Homo sapiens: one gene and its partners. The protein of the gene in region 3 interacts with the protein of the main gene of each other region in a pairwise test. Each region holds a gene or a part of one and is shown on either strand. Other genes may lie near its edges.

Region 1 (8,738 bases), on a different chromosome or scaffold from region 3:
CCTGGATGGGAGCTGGTCCTGAAAGAAGAGGACAGGATTAGAGGGTTGGGACTTTCAGCCCCACCCCCCAACCTCCCAGGAGGGGAGAGGGGCTGAAAGTTGGGTTGATCACAAATGGCCAGTGATTTAATCAATCATGCCTATGTAATGTAGCTTCCATAAAAAACCAAAAGGACTGAATTTGGAGAGTTTCCAGAGAACCAAACATGGGGAGGTTCCTGGAGAGTAGCGAGCCTGCAGAGGGCATGGAAGTTCTGAGCTCCTTCCCCTACACCTTGCCCAGTGCATCTCTTCATCTGTATACTTTGTAATATCCTTTATAATAAAATGTAAGTGTTTCCCTGAGTACTCTGGGCTGTTCTAGCAAATTAATTGAGCCCAAGCACAGGGGGATGGGAACCCCAATTTATAGCCATTAGTTCAGAAGCACAGGTAAAACAGCCTGGGGCTTTTGATTGGCATAGGAGGTGGAAGGCAGTCTCAACCTGTAGAATCTGATGCTATGTCCAAGTAGAAAGTATCAGAATTGAATTGAATTGGAGGACACTGCAGAATTATTGGTGCAGAGAAAACGCCACACACTTCTTGGTGACCAGAAGTCTCAGAAGTCTTAGAAGTCTTCTGTGTAAGTTGTTACAGTATGAGAGCACAGAAAAAAATGGTTTGTTTTTTCTACTGGAGAAGATACAAAGACTCATCTATTTGTATGCATCTATATGAATGCATTTATTTTCTCATCTGTTTTTATTTTAAAGTCTAGAAGGGATTTAAGAGGTATAAAGAGATACAATATACAGACAGTCCTTGACTTATGATGGTTCAACTTGAATGATGTTTTGACTTCGCGATTGTGTGAAAGTGATGTATTTGGCATGCCCCTCCAATGACGATAGAGTTACATCCAGATAAACCCATTGTAAATTGGAAAGATACTAAGTTGTTGAATCAAAAACAAACTTTCAACTTACGATGTTTTCAACTTATGATGGGTTTACTGGGACATAACTCCATCATCACCGAGGCGCATTTTTACGTACCAGTTTCAGCCTTCAGCTTGCTTGCAGTCTACCTGAGGCTACATGATAATTTCACAATCTAAATGATGTCACTCAGAAGTTTCTAATTGAATGCTAAAGACATGTACGGACATCCACAGGTGGGTGAGAAAAATCCCTGTGCTGCTATGGTTGGGAAAGGCCTCAGAGGAGGTGTGGGTAGCCCAGCTGGCCAATGCCTTCCTAACCTGTGCTCTTAAATTAGCTCTGTTCAATAGAAATATTACATGAACCACATGTGTAATTTAAGATTTTAAGATTTTCTAGTAGCCACATTTTTTAAAAAGTAGAAGGAAGCAGGTAAAATTAATTTTGATAATATATTTTAATTTTACCCATTATAACTGAAATAGCATCATTTCAATATATAATCAATATAAAAAAAGGTTGGCACTGTTTTTGAAATTCTGTATATATTTTACACTTACAGCAAATCTCAATTCCAGTTAGCCACAGTTTAAGTACTCAGTAGTCACATGTGACTAGTGGCTACCATGTCAGACATAATAACCCTAGCTGGTTTAGGAAGAAGGAAAGATAAGCAAAGGGAAAGAAACAAAAGTCACTGGAATTTATTGAACACCTACTATGTACCAGGCAGGGCTAGGGCTAGGGCTAGTGTGAGGCATTTGATGAACAAAAGATCAGATTCTGTTTTTATTTAAAATTTTGTTCATCATAAATTTTTGGCATAAATTTTGGTTTTAATAAATAGTGCATTAAACTATTTATCTTGATTACTACTTGTTTAGGCACCTCTTACATCACTCACACTGACTCTAGGCCCAGCCCTGGCACCAGGCGCTTTCTAAGAACTTTCTAATGCTTCATTTGGGGGCTCTAACTTGAACCAAACTGTGCTGTATATCAGAAACAGAGACCGGGTGTGGTAGCTCATGCCTGTAATGCCAGCATTTTGGAAGGTCGAGGCAGGAGGATCACTTGAGTCCAGGAGTTCAAGACCAGCCTGGGTAGCATAGTAAGACCTCATCTCTACAAAAAAATAAAACAATTAGCTGGGTGTGGTGGCATGCTTCTGTACTTCTAGCTACTTGGGAGGCTGAGGTGGGAGGATTGTTTGAGCCCAGGAGGCTGAGGCTGCAGTGAGCTGTAGTCATGCCACTGCACTCCAGCCTGGGCAACAGAGCGAGACCCTATCTCAAAAAAAGAAACAGGAGTGAACTCCTGTAATTTACTAAGCCTTGGGCATTATTTTTTAAAATAAAATTTCAATTTAATTCAATGTAGAAACAAGAAGACATTGGTAAACAAATTGAAATTCAAACTAAATCTGTGAACCAAACTGAAAATTTTGAAAATACTTCAGGACCAAACCATAACCCAGGAGAGAGTTCATCGGCTTTGATTCCCGGTCAAGGTGACCCTCAACTATTGCACCTCCCTAATCAGGGAAGAAAAGAAGGAAAACAAAGTTTTTGAGAAGACTCTATCCTAGGCCTCGTTTCCTTCCCACATTATAGCTTCGATCTCCAGCTTTTTAAGGCTTAGTAGCTGCAGTCTCTATATAATGTTATATTGGGAATGTTATATTGAAAATATAACTTGGATGCTGAAAGAAAGGAAAAGTCTTGCTTATTAAAGTGGTGTCTATTTTCAAATAAAACCCTTTTCTTTCTTTTAGGGAACTCAGAAACAAAGCAAATATTCAATTTGGAGATAATGGAACAACAATATCTGCTGTTAGCAACAAGGCCTATGTTTTTGAACGAGACCAATCTGTTGGAGACCCTAAAATTGACTTAATTAGAACATTAAATATTCCTGTATTGGTAAGTAGGCATTTTAATACCATTAAGTTGGATTTTGGAAGAAAGGAAAAAGCTAAGTTAATGCTCTTTATGATTTTACATTTAGGAGCCATTAAGTTATGTTGAAATATACATATATAAAAAGAAAAATACTTCTTTTCTTTTCTTTAAAGTACATCTTGGACTTTTTTCTAAGATGTATCAAATAAGGTCTTTTCAAATGATGACAAAATTCAGATTTTAGGATTTGTTTTCATAATTTCTTCCTGGGTGTTCAGGATTAGCAATTGTGCAAATAAATATGCCCCTAGGATTTTTTGGTAGCTAATAATTTTAAAAATGTTTATTTGCCCCTTGTTTTCATTCAGAAATTCTAGCAATGAAATTTGTATACCATTTCTTACTTCAGATTTTTATGTTGGATTTTATACTCTCAAAATTCATAAATTGACACCAGAAATCAATAGACTGGCAGCCTACTGTGATTTCAGTGGGCTCTGTTTATAATGGTAATTCTACCTAATAACGACACCTATTCTACATCTATTCTATACTGAGACCCATGAGACTTTCTTTTTTTTTAAATTAAATTAATTTATTTATTATTAATTTTTTTTGAGACAGGGTCTTGCTCTGTCGCCCAGGCTGGAGTGCAGTCAGTGGCTCCATCACAGCTCACTGAAGCTTCTACCTCCTGGGCTCCAGGGATCCTCCTGTGTCGGCCAGGGACTCCAGGCGTGAACCACTGTTCCTGGGCTGGCCCAGTAAACATTCTAATTCACCTACACCAACCCCTGCCGACTCTCCCACCCTAACCCCTAGGTGACCGCTCCATATGCAGCTGGACACTGATGATGGACCCAGGACCTAGACAGTATGAGGTCCCTGCCACCTAGTCCCAGGGGTGTAGGTCGGGTTTATAATGAGCCTCTGGCCCTGCTTAGGCGGAAGGTAGCGCCACCTTGTGGCCAAAGATGCCCACATGTTTACAAGAGCTTTTCCCCTTTTGTGGTGTCTGGATAACTCAGAGCCTGCAAATGGTCTCTTTGTAAATATTACACTTACAAAATGCAGTACTGGGAAAGGACAGAGAAGAGGCTTTGTCTTCCATATGCAGCCAGAAAGGAGCTCACTGCCTGATTTTTCAGCTATTTAATCTCAACCTTTACATTTATATTTCCAACCCCCTTTGCTATGGGGTAGTAGGAGAGAGTGGATGGAGGTGCTTTGGAGGGGATGCTGCTGTCTTAATATACCTCTGCTCCGCAGACTGTCATAGAGTGGTCCCAGGTGCACTTCCTCAGGGAGATCATCGAGGCCATGTTGAAAGCCTATCAGCAGAAGCTCTTTGTGACTCACACAGTTGACGAATTGCTCTGGGGCTACAAAGATGAAATCTTGTCCCTTATCCATGTTTTCAGGCCCGATATCTCTCCCTATTTTGGCCTATTCTATGAGGTAAGTAGATTTTTCTTTTCAGAACCTCTTTTTTTAGCTGACAGTGGGTTGGGGCACCCCAAGCCAGATTAACTTTGAGTTTCTTCTAGAAATTGCCTAGAGTTAAGTTATCTTATAGAGTGTGTGAAAAATGGAGTGTTTTTTGGAAAGAAAAAAAACTTGAGGCCGGGTGCGGTGGCTAATGCCTGTAATTCCAGGACTTTGGGAGACCGAGGTGGGTGGATCATTTGAGGTTAAGACTTTGAGACCAGCCTGGCCAACATGGCAAAACTCTATCTCTACTAAAAATACAAAAATTAGCCAGCTGTGGTGATGTACACCTGTAATCTCACCTACTCAGGAGACTGAGGCAGGTAAGTTGCATGAACCCAGGAGGCAGAGGTTGCAGTGAGCTGAAATTACACCACTGTACTCCAGCCAGGGTGACAGAGCAAGACTCTGTCTAAAAAAGCCAAAAAAAAAACAAAAACAAAAACAAAAACAAAAACCCTGGAGTGCAGTGGATAGTTGGGAAGTTGGTAAAAGATAAAATAACCCCAGGAAGAGGATTAGATTAGGGGTGTGCTCTGGGATTGTGATGGGTCTCCTCAGCTTTAAATTTGTAGCTGTTTTCTGGCTCTGCCTGTTCAAGAGTCTTACCCTCTTCATGTAATCCTGTAGCATTCCAGTTTTTATGGCAAACAGCAATAATTGTGTCCCTGGGCCTTCAAGGTTATATAAAACGTAGAAATTGTTAAAATAGAATTGTGAGCAAGTTTTAAAAAATTATATGTGTGAGAGACAGGAGTCCTAAAAGTAGGGCCTCACCAACTCTGAATGCATCATTCGGGAGAAGCAGACCAGGCAGGAGTTCCCTAGAGGGTCCTGTCTCAGAGGAATACAGCTTCACAGGACCAGAGGAAGCACAGATTTCCTGTCAAGCCCTGACTGAACCTCCCTTCTAGAAATAATTTCAGGAGAGCCTCCTACTGAGAGATATTATGCAAAGGTTCCCTCGAGGCCCTTTTGTTCCCAGTGGCTTCAATCCATCAGCCAAGTAGATCTTGTTGCTAATATCTCACTGTTTCTCAGATAATTTGCATTATATAACTCACTTTTTTTGTTTTTACATCATTGAATTCACCAGACTGATAGCCACACTATCTTATGTGGTTGTGAGGATTTCATGAGATGATTCATGCAAAAATTTTAGAACAGAGCCAGGAATATTATACTCAACAATTGTTCACTCCTATTATTATAGAGGAGCTACTACCTGTGCTATTTCTGAGAAATCATAGCTACATGCCCAAATAAAGAATTTTAGGAATGTAGTGTCTGTATGTGCCCTTAAGAAGTATAACTTGGAGAGAATATACAATTGAAGAAACCTTAATTGAAAATAGGGCTATATTAATACCGTCTTCTTCCAGTGTAGCTATTCTGGTATAATTGGTCCTGGTCCTGGACTTAGGCTTTTAAATTTGTTATTATTGAGAAATAATTCACTTACTATAACATTTACCATTTTAAAATGTACAATTCAGTAGTCCTTAGTATAGTCACAAGGTTGTGCAACCATTACTGCTAATTCCAGAACATTTTCATTATCCCAAAAAAGAAACTGCATACTCTCTTAGCAGTCACTCCTATTCCTGTCTTACTCTCCCAGGCCCTGGCAACCACTAATCTACTTTCTGGCTCTGTGAATTTGCATATTCTGGACATCTCATATAAATGGAGTCATATAATATATGCCCTTCTGTGTCTGCTTTTTAAATTTAGTGTAATGTTGTCAGGGTTCATCCATGTTGTAGCATGTATCAGTGTTCCATTCCTTTTTATAACTGAGGAATATTCCGTTGTGTAGATATACCACATTTTGCTTATCCATTTATCAGTTGATGGACATTTGGGTTGTGTTCCTTCTTGGCTATTATTAGAAGTGCTGCTATGAATATTTGTTCATACAAGCTTTTATATGAACATTGGGTATATACCTTGAAGTGGAATTCTCTTGAGTATATACATAGGTGTGGAATTTTGGAGTCCTATGAATTCTGTTTAACTTTGTTAAGAACTGACAAACTGTTTTCTGCAGTGACTGCAACATTTTTATATTCCTGCTAGCAATGTATAAAGGTTCCAATTTCTCCACATCCTCACCAACGCTTACTATTTTTCTTTTTTTTTTTTTTAATTGCCCTCCTAGTGGGTGTGAAGTGGTATCTCATTGTGGTTTTGATTTGCATTTCCCTAATGACTAATGATGCTGAACATGTTTTTATGTGCTCTCTGGCCATTAGTATATTTTCTTTTCAGAAATGTCTCTTCAAATCCTTTGCCCATTTTAAAATTGAGCTCCTACTTTTTAAAACCATAAAATAATAATATGGTTAATATAGTATTTAGCAAAATAGTCACTATTTTCTGGTCCTGGTTCAGTCTTGTGTAGCAGTTAGGCCCTAGTAGGACAGTTAGATGAAGATTAAATTTTTTAGTTACTGTATCAGTTAGGGTTGCCAGAGAAACTGAATCAAGAGGGTGTATATGTAGAGATGAGAAAGAGGGAGAGAAAGAAATTTATATTATGGAATTGGCTTATGTGATTATGGGAGCTGGTAAGTCTGAAATCCATAGAGCAGGCCAGCAGCTGGAAACTCAGGTAAAAGTTGATGATGTGGTCTTGAGTTTGAAATCTGTAGGGTGGGCTGCAACCTGGAAATCCAGGCAGAATTTCGATGTTGCAGTCTTGAGGAGAATTCCTCCTCTAAGAAACCTCTGTTTTTGCTTGTAAGGCTTTGAACAGATTGGAGGGGGCCCAGCCACTCATTATTGAGGGTAACCTCCCTTAAAGTTAACGGATTGTAGATATTAATCACACCTACAAAATACCTTCACCACACCATCTGGGCTAGTGTTTGACCAAACAACTGGGCACCATAGTCTAGCCAAGTTGTCATAAAATTATCACAGTTACTTTAAATGATCATATTCACATATTTTCAGAAAAATGGGACTAATGATGGAGACTATGTTTTTCTAACTGGAGAAGACAGTTACCTTAACTTTACAAAAATTGTGGAATGGAATGGGAAAACGTAAGTCAAATGATTTATCAGTGGAATTATTTTTTCAGTTTTCATTTAAACTACATGTCTACTTCTACATTGCTTAAAAATGTGTTTAGCCTTTTTTGGATGAAAAATATAAAAACATGTAAATAGTCTTGTAATTATTATTCTACAAATCAAGATGGTGGTAAAACATCTTACAGATTAAATATTAGTGATTTGTAGATTTATCATGGCCAGGCATGAATTACAGGCCAGTGAAAAGTCCCACTCTTGCTTAGTAGTCATTGAGTGATGTGTAGTAGCTACAGCACAAATACTTTTCAAACCACCACATGTTTTGGGCTATTTGGCCATTGCCTCTATGAAAGCTGATTTGGGCCAGGGACCTACTTTTTCTCCCCCTTGATCTAATTAAAACTGTTGTGTCTGTGTATGAATAAGATACTGTGGATAGACAGCTCCAGTTAAATCTTGCAAAGTCCTGACCATTTAAGAGAATCTAAACTCAAATGTGATCATCTTTACTCTTTCTTGTGCTTATCAATTATAGGTCACTTGACTGGTGGATAACAGACAAGTGCAATATGATTAATGGAACAGATGGAGATTCTTTTCACCCACTAATAACCAAAGATGAGGTCCTTTATGTCTTCCCATCTGACTTTTGCAGGTAAAAGCTTTAAAGATAAGTTCTTTTTCAAAAATAAGGTCTTTCACTGCAAGACCACCAAAAGCATGAGGAATATATGCAGACACACTTATTATGCATGGATATTTATGCATAATCAGTGATAAATGCTGATGGCACATCGAGACAGTATAGTGTACTGGTTCACAGCACAGACTTCTGACTGTTGGTTTGAATCTTGGCTCTACCACTTATAGCTGTGTGACCTTGGGCAAATTACTTAACCACTCTGTACCTCACTTTCCTTATTTGTAAAACAAAGATAGAAATTGTTAACTATGTTAGAGGTTGTTATGAGGACAAATGAGTTAGTATTAGTCAAATACTTAGCCCAGGGCCCATCACACAGTAACCAATATTAAGTGTTGGCTCTTAGTTACTATGATATGCTCTGTCAAGCATCAACTGACCTGGTCTACTTCCAGTCAATAGGTAGTCTCTACATGGAAGCCAAATAAAAGATACTGTTGTCCATATTTCAGCAGAGTGGTTTCCTCAGGGGAGGCAGAGAAGGAATGGAATCAAGAGCATTACGTAGACAGGTTCAGTTATATCCATAATATAATTTTTATTTGTCTAAGTGGCAGATACAAAGGTATTTGTTAGAGTATTTTATCTCTTTCTGGTGCCTAAAATTTTTCATTAAAAAATGCTGTAGGGGTGGTTTGGTTTGTGCAGTGAAACCACCTATGTTATTCACAACCTTGCGAGA
Region 2 (8,728 bases), on a different chromosome or scaffold from region 3:
GGGTGGGCTTCCTCCTGCACATACCAGGGGCCACAAATAGTAATAAGAATAATCCTGTTAAAATAGACTAATAACAGACATTTATTGAAAGTTTATTGTGTGCCAGGCACTGAATTATTTAGTATATTATTTAATCCTCAGAACATTCTTACAAGGTAAGTACCATTTTAATGTTCATTTGGATATATAGAGTCAGAAAGGTTGAGTAACTTGCCTTCAGTCAGCTAGTAGACAATAGAGAAGGGCTGTAAAGAAGTGCTTTTAACCACTGTGCTATACTTGCCAACTTGTCCAAAACCATGAACATTATCCTTTCTAGTCCCAAATTTATTTTGCTGCTTCAGGGGTTTGAAAATTTAAAAATCCCACAGAAATATGAACTACCATCAGAGAATACTATAAACACCTCTACGCAAATAAACTAGAAAATCTAGAAGAAATGGATAAATTCCTTGACACATACACCCTCCCAGGACTAAACCAGGAAGAAGTTGAATCTCTGAATAGACCAATAACAGGCTCTGAAATTGAGGCAATAATCAATAGCTTACCAACCAAAAAAAGTCCAGGACCAGATGGATTCACAGCCGAATTCCACCAGAGGTACAAGGAGGAGCTGGTACCATTCCTTCTGAAACTATTCCAATCAATAGAAAAAGAGGGAATCCTCCCTAACTCATTTTATGAGGCCAGCATCATCCTGATACCAAAGCTGGGCAGAGACACAACAAAAAAAGAGAATTTTAGACCAATATCCCTAATGAACATCGATGCAAAAATCCTCAGTAAAATACTGGCAAACCGAATCCAGCAGCACATCAAAAAGCTTATCCACCATGATCAAGTGGGCTTCATCCCTGGGATGCAAGGCTGGTTCAACATACACAAATCAATAAACATAATCCAGCATATAAACAGAACCAACGACAAAAACCACATGATTATCTCAATAGATGCAGAAAAGGCCTTTGACAAAATTCAACAATGCTTCCTGCTAAAAACTCTCAATAAATTAGGTATTGATGGGACATATCTCAAAATAATAAGAGCTATCTATGACAAACCCACAGCCAATATCATACTGAATGGGCAAAAACTGGAAGCATTCCCTTTGAAAACTGGCACAAGACAGGGATGTCCTCTCTCACCACTCCTATTCAACATAGTGTTGGAAGTTCTGGCCAGGGCAATCAGGCAGGAGAAGGAAATAAAGGGTATTTAATTAAGGAAAAGAGGAAGTCAAATTGTCCCTGTTTGCAGATGACATGATTGTATATCTAGAAAACCCCATCGTCTCAGCCCAAAATCTCCTTAAGCTGATAAGCAACTTCAGAAAAGTCTCAGGATACAAAATCAATGTGCAAAAATCACAAGCATTCTTATACACCAATAACAGACAAACAGAGAGCCAAATCATGAGTGAACTCCCATTCACAATTGCTTCAAAGAGAATAAAATACCTAGGAATCCAACTTATAAGGGACGTGAAGGACCTCTTCAAGGAGAACTACAAGCCACTGCTCAATGAAATAAAAGAGGATACAAACAAATAGAAGAACATTCCATGCTCATGGGCAGGAAGAATCAATATCATGAAAATGGCCATACTGCCCAAGGTAATTTATAGATTCAGTGCCATCCCCATCAAGCTACCAATGACTTTCTTCACAGAATTGGAAAAAACTACTTTAAAGTTCATATGGAACCAAAAAAGAGCCAGCATTGCCAAGTCAATCCTAAACCAAAAGAACAAAGCTGGAGGCATCACACTACCTGACTTCAAACTATACTACAAGGCTACAGTAACCAAAACAGCATGGTACTGTACCAAAACAGAGATATAGACCAATGGAACAGAACAGAGCCCTCAGAAATAATGCCACATATCTACAACTATCTGATCTTTGACAAACCTGACAAAAACAAGAAATGGGGAAAGGATTCCCTATTTAATAAATGGTGCTGGGAAAACTGGCTAGCCATATGTAGAAGGCTGAAACTGGATCCCTTCCTTACACCTTATACAAAAATTAATTCGAGATGGATTAAAGACTTAAATGTTAGACCTAAAACCATAAAAACCCTAGAAGAAAACCTAGGCAATACCATTCAGGACATTGGCATGGGCAAGGACTTCACGTCTAAAACACCAAAAGCAATGGCAACAAAAGCCAAAATTGACAAATGGGATCTAATTAAACTAAAGAGCTTCTGCACAGCAAAAGAAACTACCATCAGAGTGAACAAGCAACCTACAGAATGGGAGAAAATTTTTGCAATCTACTCATCTGACAAAGGGCTAATAACCAGAATTTACAATGAACTCAAACAAGTTTACAAGAAAAAAACAAACAACCCCATCAACAAGTGGGCAAAGGATATGAACAGACACTTCTCAAAAGAAGACATTTATGCAGCCAAAAGACACATGAAAAAATGCTCATCATCACTGGCCATCAGAGAAATGCAATTCAAAACCACAATGAGATAACATCTCACACCAGTTAGAATGGCAATCATTAAAAAGTCAGGAAACAACAGGTCCTGGAGAGGATGTGGAGAAATAGGAACACTTTTACACTGTTGGTGGGACTGTAAACTAGTTCAACCATTGTGGAAGTCAGTGTGGCGATTCCTCAGGGATCTAGAACTAGAAATACCATTTGACCCAGCCATCCCATTACTGGGTATATACCCAAAGGATTATAAATCATGCTGCTGTAAAGACACATGCACATGTATGTTTATTGCAGCACTAGTCACAATAACAAAGACTTGGAACCAACCCAAATGTCCAACAATGATAGACTGGATTAAGAAAATGTGGCACATATACACCATGGAATACTATGCAGCCATAAAAAAGGATGAGTTCATGTCCTTTGTAGGGACATGGATGAAGCTGGAAACCATCATTCTCAGCAAACTATCGCAAGGACAAAAAACCAAACGCTGCATGTTCTCACTCATAGGTGGGAATTGAACAATGAGAACACATGGACACGGGAAGGGGAACATCACACACCGGGGCCTGTTGTGGGGTGGGGGGAGTGGGGAGGGATAGCATTAGGAGATAAACCTAATGCTAAATGACAAGTTAATGGGTGCAGCACACCAACATGGCACATGTATACATACGTAACAAACCTGCACGTTGTGCACATGTACCCTAAAACTTAAAGTATAGTAAAAAATAAAGTAAAAATAAATAAATAAAGAAAATCCCCCTACTCTAGGTGGATCAAAGAAAAAAACATTTATCTGGTCCCAAAATTCAAAGCTTCACAAAAGTCTTTATATTCCTGATATTCTAGAAAATATTTATATACAGCATCTTCATGTTTGAATAATCTTTTAAAATATTTCCATTTTATGTATATATCTATCTATAACTACATAGATGAGCCATTTCTAAATGCATTTACCTTCTAGTTATTGGTCTTACTACTGCACTGAAATTTTCCTTGACAAGTCAAAAATGGCCTTATAATTAGTAAACGAATGGTCAGTTTTCCATCTTTATTTGATATACCTGCAGCAGGAGACTGTTAAATAATTCCTTATTTAAATTTTTATTTCCTTCTTCATAATGTCTTCCTTTTTCACAGGTTTATCACATAGAAAAACAGTCTTTTGGAAACTGTACAGTGCTATTAAAATATCCAAATTATTATGGCTATTGGGAGGCTAGAATGAGATCTATATGAAAAGTTGAAGAAAAATTTTAGTACCTGTAAACATACATGCTGTTTTTTTTCTTGTGAAATGAAAGTATTCTTGTCATCTAAGTATTTCTTATTTTCAAGCATGGTTCTTGACTTAGACACATACGGTCCCTTCCAGAAGCCAGTGGTTTAGGCTTGTGGCCATGTTTCATGGGCTAGGAATGTCCAGGCAGCCGGAGTAATCTCTGTTGTTCTCTTCTAGGTATTTACCTTGCTGTGGATTGCTGACTGGATGGTCCATCACTTCTGGAGGAAAGGAAAGGACCCGGATAGTTTCTCCATCCCCTACCTAACAGCATTGGGTGATCTGCTCGGGACAGCTCTGTTAGCCTTAAGTTTTCATTTTCTTTGGCTTATTGGAGATCGAGATGGAGATGTTGGAGACTAATAAATTCTACAAACTGCTCTCAAGTTACCAAGGAAGAAAATACACGACAACCACTTATGGCTCTTTTTCAAAACTCTTAAATCAGTAGTTTGACTTTTGCCAGGGTAATCTTCAGTTGGCCCTGATTCAATTAAATGGCCTTAATTTTTTTTTAAGGAATTTGTGTCAAAACCAGAATGAAGAGTATTCGTGCTGCTTTTCATAGAATAAATGATAATTTGACATAGACATAGATATAAGTTCCAGCTCTGAAATTAATTAGGAAAGAATATAGGATGTTTACAGTGAATAATTTTAAAACCACAAACATAGCAGAAATGTACTTTATTATTAAATTTGTAATGCAGGATTAGAAGAAGCAGAGCTCTAGTTTAGCCTTTCTTGTCTCACAGATGTGCTGTATCCCAGGCATACTATAAAACGAAGAGTGCCCAACCAAGCTTTGAATCGTATTAACAATGCCCACCTCTATGCTAGCTGAGGATAAATTTACCAGTTGCTCATATTTAAACTGACCTAAATATGTTTTGCTGAGCATAAGATAAACTCACTTTTACCTCCATCTAAAATTATCCTGTTCTGATGCCAATTCAATTTCAGCTCTGCAAGTTCTTGTCAGGCTAATCTTTAAACATTGAGTGATCTTGAGAGATTGTTAATGAAAGCAGTGAGTCATTTTTTGATGATTGATTTGTTGGAAAAATGTTGATGTGTTTTAAAAAATGTAATCTTCAAAAACAGAATATAACCTGAGATGCATTTGTAGAGACAAGACGGTACGAGAATGTGTGTGTGTGTGTGTGTGAGAGAGAGAGACTTTTGATGAAGAACTAAATCTTGGATTGCTGATAGCAAAGATCATAGTGCTGTTGGAATATCAGCAATATAGAGTTATTCTTAAACACATTCTATTAACATGTTTTTGTCATTGGGTCCAAAAATTTTGCTGCTGACCAGAATTTACTATTTGTTACCTATATTCTTTTTTTTTTTTTTTTTTTTTTTTTTTGAGACAGAGTCTTGCTCTGTCGCCCAGGCTGGAATGCAGTGGTGTGATCTCGGCTCACTGCTACCTCCACCTCCTGGATTCAAGTGATTCTCCTGCCTCAGCCTCCCGAGTAGCTGGGATTACAGGAATGCGCCACAACGCCCAGCTAATTTGTTACCTACACTCTAATTAATAATTAATAATTTCTTATTTTAAAAAGTAGTACTATTTAATATAATCAAGATAGGAGATTTAAAATGAGCAAGTGATTCATTTGCTCTTTTAAAGAAGCCCGTTGACTTACGCTTTTAAAAAAGAAGTTGGTGGGTTACCTCAATTATTGTTCATGCTTAAACATATCCATTTGTACAGGCTTATTTCTACGTGGGACCCAATCATATATACTATATTTCTCAAATAATTTTTCTAAAACTCTGGCCTATATTCTAAACACTTGACCAACACCTTAGTTATTGAATAGGTAACCATTTTTAAAGTACATGTGGTTCATTTTTTAAAATTCAATCTCTCAAGACCGTTAGATATTTAATAATTTAAGCTGATAAGGGTATCAAAATGCACATTAACTTTGATCATCATGATTTAAGTTGTAACTTTGTGTTATTATATAAATATTAGGTTGTTTATAAATATATTGCAGAAAGTATTCTTGTTAAGCTCTTTTAAATGAGGGGACTGTGGTTTAGAGTTATATATTTTTGCTTATTTTTAAACTTCAATTATTCCATTCTTCTGCCTTATAATAAAACTTTTAAGGCAGAGAACTGAACTAATTATAGAATTTCTCCTTTGGAGAGTTATAATGTTACATAGTGAACATTCTTATAAAAGAAAGAATAAGTTTAAGTTGATGAATATTTAGCTGCAAAGATTTTTTACTTAAAAAAATCCATGAATATCTTTGATTTTATTATAAAGCATTTGTAAATTATTTGCATTTGAGCTGTAAGATTCATAAACATTTACATTTCCCAATGATTTCTATTTTGATTTTTAAAAAATATACAGGGCAAGCTACATTTTTAAAGCATTAATCAACAACTTTATTATATTACACATTCCAGTGCACAAACACACAATATCATTTAATACTCACAGTAGTACCTGTGAAATATATCAGATGGATATTCCTATCTCTATTTTACAGCAGAGGAAACCGAAATTCAGAGAACTTACATTTCTAAGGTTGTACAGCTGCAAAATGACCAAATTGTGAAGTCCCTAACATCCAGGTTTTCATAATGCCAGTACTCTTTCTATGACATGTTTATGACCCTCCAAATGTACCAAAACTACCTAACTAATTCACTGAGAGGAAGCCAACTGCAAAAATAGGATTTTTAAAAGTACAATAGAGTATTACTACATTTTATGGATTTCAGACAAAGAAACCTCCGTTTATTATATCCTGATGGTGAGTATTGCCAGCTCTAAATTATTCATATTTCTAAGACCAAGGAAAATATAGGTAAATGAAAATTTTGAAATAAAGAACAATGCCTTAATTTGTAAAATCTATCATTGCTACCACCCTGCCCAGGTCTGGCCATTTGCCATAAATGCTGGTAAATAAATACAATGACTGATAGAGTTCTGTCTCCTTTCTCTTTTGCTACCCAACCTTGGTTAGAGCAACCAAATGTCTAAAAGGCATGTAACAGGAGAAAAAAATAAAAACATTAGTCACCAATTCGCCGATTATAAAAGGGATGTAGATTCCTTTAAATTATTACTGACCTTTTGAAAGCCTTCACGTAAGTATGCAACAGATAAAATGACTCATTTACCCACAACAATAATCTATTATCAGTCTTAAGTAATGTGAATTCACTGTATTTCTTTTTATACAACATAAAAACTTCTGCTTTCCAAACTTCTTCCTTTTCACTAATTTATCAGCCACTTTATTTATACACAGATAACACTTTTAGAAACATTTTTCTTTCTTGTCCATTTTTTTCTTTCAAAAATAAAGTTTCTTAGAACCTGATAAAATGGAAACTTATGGTAATATGTGTTCTGGTAGGTGTCCAAAAATTCCACACCATAGACTATCAATGATATAGCCAAATAAAGGCCATTCAAAAAAATCAGTAATTGGGATTCCTTGCCTTATATCTATGGTATAGTGTACCCATTTATAACGGGGTTCTGCCATCTTCGAATTGTTTTAAACTCAAATAAAGAATAAAATTTAAGAAATAATTATCCAGTCTTGTTATGCTTACTTCTTGATGAACTAGAGAACATCAAGCCAGTGTGGAAATCTCCCAGAAGAGACTGGGGTAATTTATGTATACATATGATATTTATGAATTATAATAAATTGGGCTTTGACCATATCTAGACCTCCAATGCATTGCTTTACTACTTTTTGACTGTCAAATACTCTCCTCATTTCTTCACTCCTCTCATTATCCAGCTTACATTGCTTGGTTCATCAGTCCATACATCTGCAACTGCCTCTCTCATGCTGGCAGGACAGAATACAAACTCTGGATAAAGACAGCTCTCTGTGTTTTGCCTGTACCTGAGTGCTCAATATGGCTCATGAAAAACACACAACTCCTCTGACAGATCTTTAAATTTATAACCTCAGACATCAAGTTAACCCCCAACTGCCCAGCAACCTACTCTGTTTCTCTAATGACTTTACTTTCTGAGAGACAGGTCTTTGTCCCCAGCACTTTACTGAAAGCAAACTTGTTGTCAACCTAAATAGTAAACAGAGAGAAGGTTTCTAAAAGAAAATGATATTCAGGAATAGGCATTGCAATGGGAATACACGTGCCACAGTGTTCCCACTGCATATGAACTACCTGCATATTCAGGGAGGTAAAGGAAGGAGGAGGTTTTTAAAGAAGGATTACAAATTATTTTGAGATAATTATCCTTGGCTACAAGGATCGACAGCAAGCATAACGCCAGTCTGAGGTTGAACAGGTGTTTGCTGGGCGGATATTCTCACAGAAGTATTTTTTGTGTGTAAGGTTGCAATGGCCATTGTACAAGGTTGTGGTTTTTGCAGAGTCTTTTGTGATGGTTTTTGTTACTGGGCATTTATGCATGAGAAACCTTTCTTCATGGCCTTCTCTGGCTCTATTTGTCAGAGTTTTATTAACACAAGTGACTCCATTATGTTTCTGACAAGTTTCACATTTCCCCCTTTTGATCAAGATATTTCTCCAAAAGCATCACTGACCAATCATCCTGTATTCAGGTGTTGATAGCTCCTGATGCCAGGATGGGCCCGTCCTGGGTTGCTGATCTGGTCCTATGTTAGAGAAAGTGAATGGTGGCTAGGAGTCCGTGTCAAAACCCTATTATCCACGTTTGAGCAACAAGGGAGGTTTGAAGGGAGTGGATCTCAGGCTAAGTCTACCTGGAGTCCATTATTAAGTTCAATTTTTTCTGTTCCATAGTCGTTTGCTGTTATCTCAAAGTGCTGGGCCAGCATTGTTCTGTTAGGAGTTCTACTTCTGCAAAAATTTAACAAGTAATAGTGCAAACTTTAAAAAGGAAATAATAGTAATTTGAAAATCCCTGTTTGCATAATGGTTTTGAGCTGTGAATCTAGGCTTAAAGACAACTATTTGAATGAAACAA
Region 3 (4,627 bases):
GAGTGGTATAAATAGAAAAAAAATCTACATTTCTTACATAAATTAAGATTTATCAAAAGGATATCATGGCTGGGCATGGTAGCTCATGCATGTAATCCCAGCACTTTGGGAGGCCAAGACAGGAGGATCACTTTAGTGCCCAGGAGTTCAAGCCCATCCCGGGCAACACAGCGAGACCCTGCCAAAAAAAAAGTTATTGCTTTTCAAAATAAGGTGATTATTCACTTTGGGAGGCCAAAACCCTATCTCTACTCAAAATACAAAAATTTGCCTGGTGTGGTGGCACACACCTGTAATCCCAGCAATTTGGGATTACAACTTTGCTTCATTTTTTTTGGCTTTTAATTTTATTTGACACAGAGTTTCACTCTTGTCCCCCAGGCTGGAGGGCAGTGGTGTGGTCTCAGCTCACTGCAACCTCCACCTCCCAGGTTCAAATGATTCTACTGTCTCAGCCTCCCGAGTAGCTGGGATTACAGGTGCACACCACCACACCCGGCTAATTTTTTGTATTTTTAGTAGAGATGGGGTTTCACCGTGTTGGGCAGGCTGGTCTTAAACTCCTGATCTTAGGTGATCCACCCGCCTCAGCCTCCCAAAGTGCTGGGATTACAGACTGAGCCACGGCTCCCAGCCTACTTTGCTTCATTTCTTGATACTAAGATCACATACTAGATGAGTAGACTCATAGGTGAAGTCATCAAGTATATTGAAATCTGGTTACTCTAACCTTGAGTTTCACTTCGTTTGGGTGTTTTGTTTTTTATATTATGACAGTCCTAGAACTTGATACTAAAGTTATCATTTATGCAGATACTAATAGAAGTGAAAATCTTGACAAAGAATAAAATTATGCTCATGAAAATATGTTCTGGATATTTTAGATTCTTCAAAGAAGGAACCAAGGTGGAATTTTTGGAAGTATCTTGTCAACCCTGAGGGTCAAGTTGTGAAGTTCTGGAAGCCAGAGGAGCCCATTGAAGTCATCAGGCCTGACATAGCAGCTCTGGTTAGACAAGTGATCATAAAAAAGAAAGAGGATCTATGAGAATGCCATTGCGTTTCTAATAGAACAGAGAAATGTCTCCATGAGGGTTTGGTCTCATTTTAAACATTTTTTTTTTGGAGACAGTGTCTCACTCTGTCACCCAGGCTGGAGTGCAGTAGTGCGTTCTCAGCTCATTGCAACCTCTGCCTTTTTAAACATGCTATTAAATGTGGCAATGAAGGATTTTTTTTTAATGTTATCTTGCTATTAAGTGGTAATGAATGTTCCCAGGATGAGGATGTTACCCAAAGCAAAAATCAAGAGTAGCCAAAGAATCAACATGAAATATATTAACTACTTCCTCTGACCATACTAAAGAATTCAGAATACACAGTGACCAATGTGCCTCAATATCTTATTGTTCAACTTGACATTTTCTAGGACTGTACTTGATGAAAATGCCAACACACTAGACCACTCTTTGGATTCAAGAGCACTGTGTATGACTGAAATTTCTGGAATAACTGTAAATGGTTATGTTAATGGAATAAAACACAAATGTTGAAAAATGTAAAATATATATACATAGATTCAAATCCTTATATATGTATGCTTGTTTTGTGTACAGGATTTTGTTTTTTCTTTTTAAGTACAGGTTCCTAGTGTTTTACTATAACTGTCACTATGTATGTAACTGACATATATAAATAGTCATTTATAAATGACCGTATTATAACATTTGAAAAAGTCTTCATCATTTTCAGTATTTCTCTCTGCATTATTTTTTAGAAGCAACTCAAATTCTGTAATCATAATATTACCAAGTAAGTCAGTCTTTATTTTTGCGTGAAAATCCCAAGTGTAGAAAAAAGGACATGAGTATAAGATCATTTAACTTGATTCCTTATAGGCTGATTTGGGTTGCTAATGTATTCGTACTAGATTAGCCACTTGGGAGGAATTCAATGCTGCATCATTCTGATAGCTGAAATAGTAAAAGTCAACTCCAAACAGCCTAAATTCTAGTATAAAAAGGGGGTGATCATACAAGTCCTAAAGTGTAGATCAGCAGTCACTGAACCTCTTAGAGTCACAAGGCATTTCTTCTCCCAAAGTCATGACCTTTATATTTTGTTAGCCTTATAATTGACTAACAAAGCAACCTGCCAAGTTGGTGAAGGTTAATTATTGCCTCATGAAATATACATTCATCGCATAAAAGAATTAAATAGGAAGATGGCCAAAAATGTAAAAAAGTCGTATAAATTTGTCTAAGAAGAAAAAGACCCAATTTAAGTAGTCTGTGACTTGACTCCCAAATTCTGACCTGATGGATGAAAGTGAAGATGTTTCGTATGGCAAATTCAGTAATGCTACCTCAGTATATAGTTCTGTATACGTATTTGGACCAAAGTTATTAGATAAACCAAAAATATTTCATGAAGCATCTTCTGCTTCAGAGTCCATATCCAGCCACCCAGCTATGAATGTATTTAGAAAGATATTTGGTGGAGGTGGAATTTCTACCAGAGGTCAAGAGGATTTGTAGGGATAGCCTCAAGAATGCCAGATGAGTGTGTCAGAAAGCCTGCTCCTACCTCTCGCCAGCTGCGTGACTTTAGGCAAGTCACTTAAGTACCTTATTTCAGTTTCCTCACCTGTAAATTGAACAGGGGTTGAATGGAATAAAAAGCCCTTTGCAACTCTAAAAGTCAATTAACACACTTACTAAGGTGTTTTAAGTGACCAGGAAGGAAATCAGAACTAACCTGGATTGTTAGCGAAGAAAACAGAAGCCACCAACAAGCCTATCTGTCCTTTGCAATTTTGCTCCAAGAGCCTATTAGCAATTTGAATTCTGAGCCTCTAAGAAAACTTATGCTCAGGTGGCCCCTCCAAGTGTTGGTGCCAGAGCACTCTTGCCTTGTATCCTCACCTACGCCTTCCATGAACTCATAGCAGTGCTGTGGCACTGCAGGGGTGTTTTATGCATTCACGTTAGGAGCATGAGCAGAACTGCATATGCCAGCACCACATGGGCAGCAGAGACTCCCCACTGCCAGATGGATGATAATGGAGCTGCACTGGGAACAACCAGGACTGTCCCAGTCAACATGATACAGATGAACATCCTGCCTTAAGTCACTAGCTCTCTCCAAAGCCAGATAAAGTGGGTTTCTTCACTTACATCTCTCTAATCTTGGCTGCCTTATTCAACCTACAGACTCTATGTCAGTGCTGGATTTTCTCCCCTTGCCCTTTAGGTAAGCAGAGTAGGCAGGAGGAGATTTGAAAGCGTGTCATACATATTGCCTTGAAAGAAAGGACATTCAGGTGTCCCTTCGGGGTTCTGTAACAATTAGGCTATGTGTGCTGAGAGAGGGAGCGGAGTCATTTGCTGATGTGCTGCTACCTGTAACTCAAATGCCTCATAGGAATACCAGCGGACAAACACATAGAGGAAAAGTTGAATCTTTCCTATATTGGACAATCTTCCTTCAGTCTTGTTTCTGCATCAAAAAGTCTGGGACACAGAGTGCTACAGGATGCCTGGGCTAAGGACTGTAACAGAAAAATATCAACATCAGAGCCTGGCACAGTGGCTCACACCGGTAATCCCAGCACTTTGGGAGGCCGAGGCGGGTGGATCACTTCAGGTCAGGAGTTCGAGACCATCCTGGCCAACATGGTGAAACCCCCATCTCTACTAAAAATACAAAAATTAGCCGGGCACGGTGGCACATGCCTGTAATCCCAGCTACCTGGGAGGCTGAGTCAGAAGAATCACTTGAAAACAGGAGGCTGAGGTTGCAATGAGCCAAGATTGCACCACTGCACTCCAACCTGGGCAACAGAGCGAGACCCCATCTTAAAGACCCTGTCTCAAAAAAGAGAGAAAAAGAAAAAGAAAAATATCAGGCATCACATGAAAGAGTATTCAGCTGTCGTTCTTGTGAAAAAGGAAAAGGACAAAATCAAATGCATTTTAACTGTGGTAACTAATTCACTGACTTGAAGTTTGCTTTGTTTGTTTTCTTTGGTGCGTAGAGAAGAATACTTCATACTAACTCCTGATCATCTTACAGCAGACATAACAACAGAGTGTTAGAGACTGGAATAAATATGAATTTGGCTGAAATGTGCCCTGAAAGTTGTATTTCATTTTTTTAAATGTTTAACAATTACACTGTATCAATAGTATATATACGTGTACATATATATAATTCTTAATAACTGCAGTGTATCTAGCATATATATAATGGTGGCTGGTACATGTTTAATAGCAGACTCTGGAGGAGGAATCCTGACATACAGCATTTGCCAGCTCAATGTAAATGCTCATGCTCCCTCATGGTCAATTTCAATCTACCACTGGTTTAGTAACTAGGATGCAAAATTTCTAAAAATGTGATAATTGGTGATGGGCATGATGGCTCAGGCCTGTAATATCAGCACTTTAAGCAGCTGAGGTGGGAGGATCACTTGAGCCCAGGAGTTAGAGACCAGCCTGGGGCAACATGGCAAAACCCTGTCTCCACAAAAAAAATCAAAAAATTAGCTGGGTGTAGTGGCACATGCCTCAGGTCCCAGCTACATAGGAGGCTGAGGTGGAAGGATTGCTTGAGCCCAAAGAGGTCA

The links. The genes of interacting proteins can lie anywhere in the genome.
Region 1: the proteins of GPX8 (region 3) and SCARB2 interact in binary tests that used the Homo sapiens proteins (3 or more experiments, as listed by UniProt).
Region 2: the proteins of GPX8 (region 3) and SLC41A2 interact in binary tests that used the Homo sapiens proteins (3 or more experiments, as listed by UniProt).

What each region holds. Positions count from the first base shown.
Region 1 is NC_000004.12:76,175,061-76,183,798, reverse strand, and holds part of SCARB2 (lysosome membrane protein 2), read left to right. Parts: intron 1-2,697; coding exon 2,698-2,845; intron 2,846-4,093; coding exon 4,094-4,282; intron 4,283-7,270; coding exon 7,271-7,362; intron 7,363-7,888; coding exon 7,889-8,008; intron 8,009-8,738.
Region 2 is NC_000012.12:104,800,537-104,809,264, reverse strand, and holds the end of SLC41A2 (solute carrier family 41 member 2), read left to right. Parts: intron 1-3,927; coding exon 3,928-4,113; 3' UTR 4,114-7,464; downstream 7,465-8,728. UniProt on the Homo sapiens protein: Acts as a plasma-membrane magnesium transporter. Can also mediate the transport of other divalent metal cations in an order of Ba(2+) > Ni(2+) > Co(2+) > Fe(2+) > Mn(2+).
Region 3 is NC_000005.10:55,163,171-55,167,797, forward strand, and holds the end of GPX8 (probable glutathione peroxidase 8), read left to right. Parts: intron 1-884; coding exon 885-1,048; 3' UTR 1,049-4,127; downstream 4,128-4,627.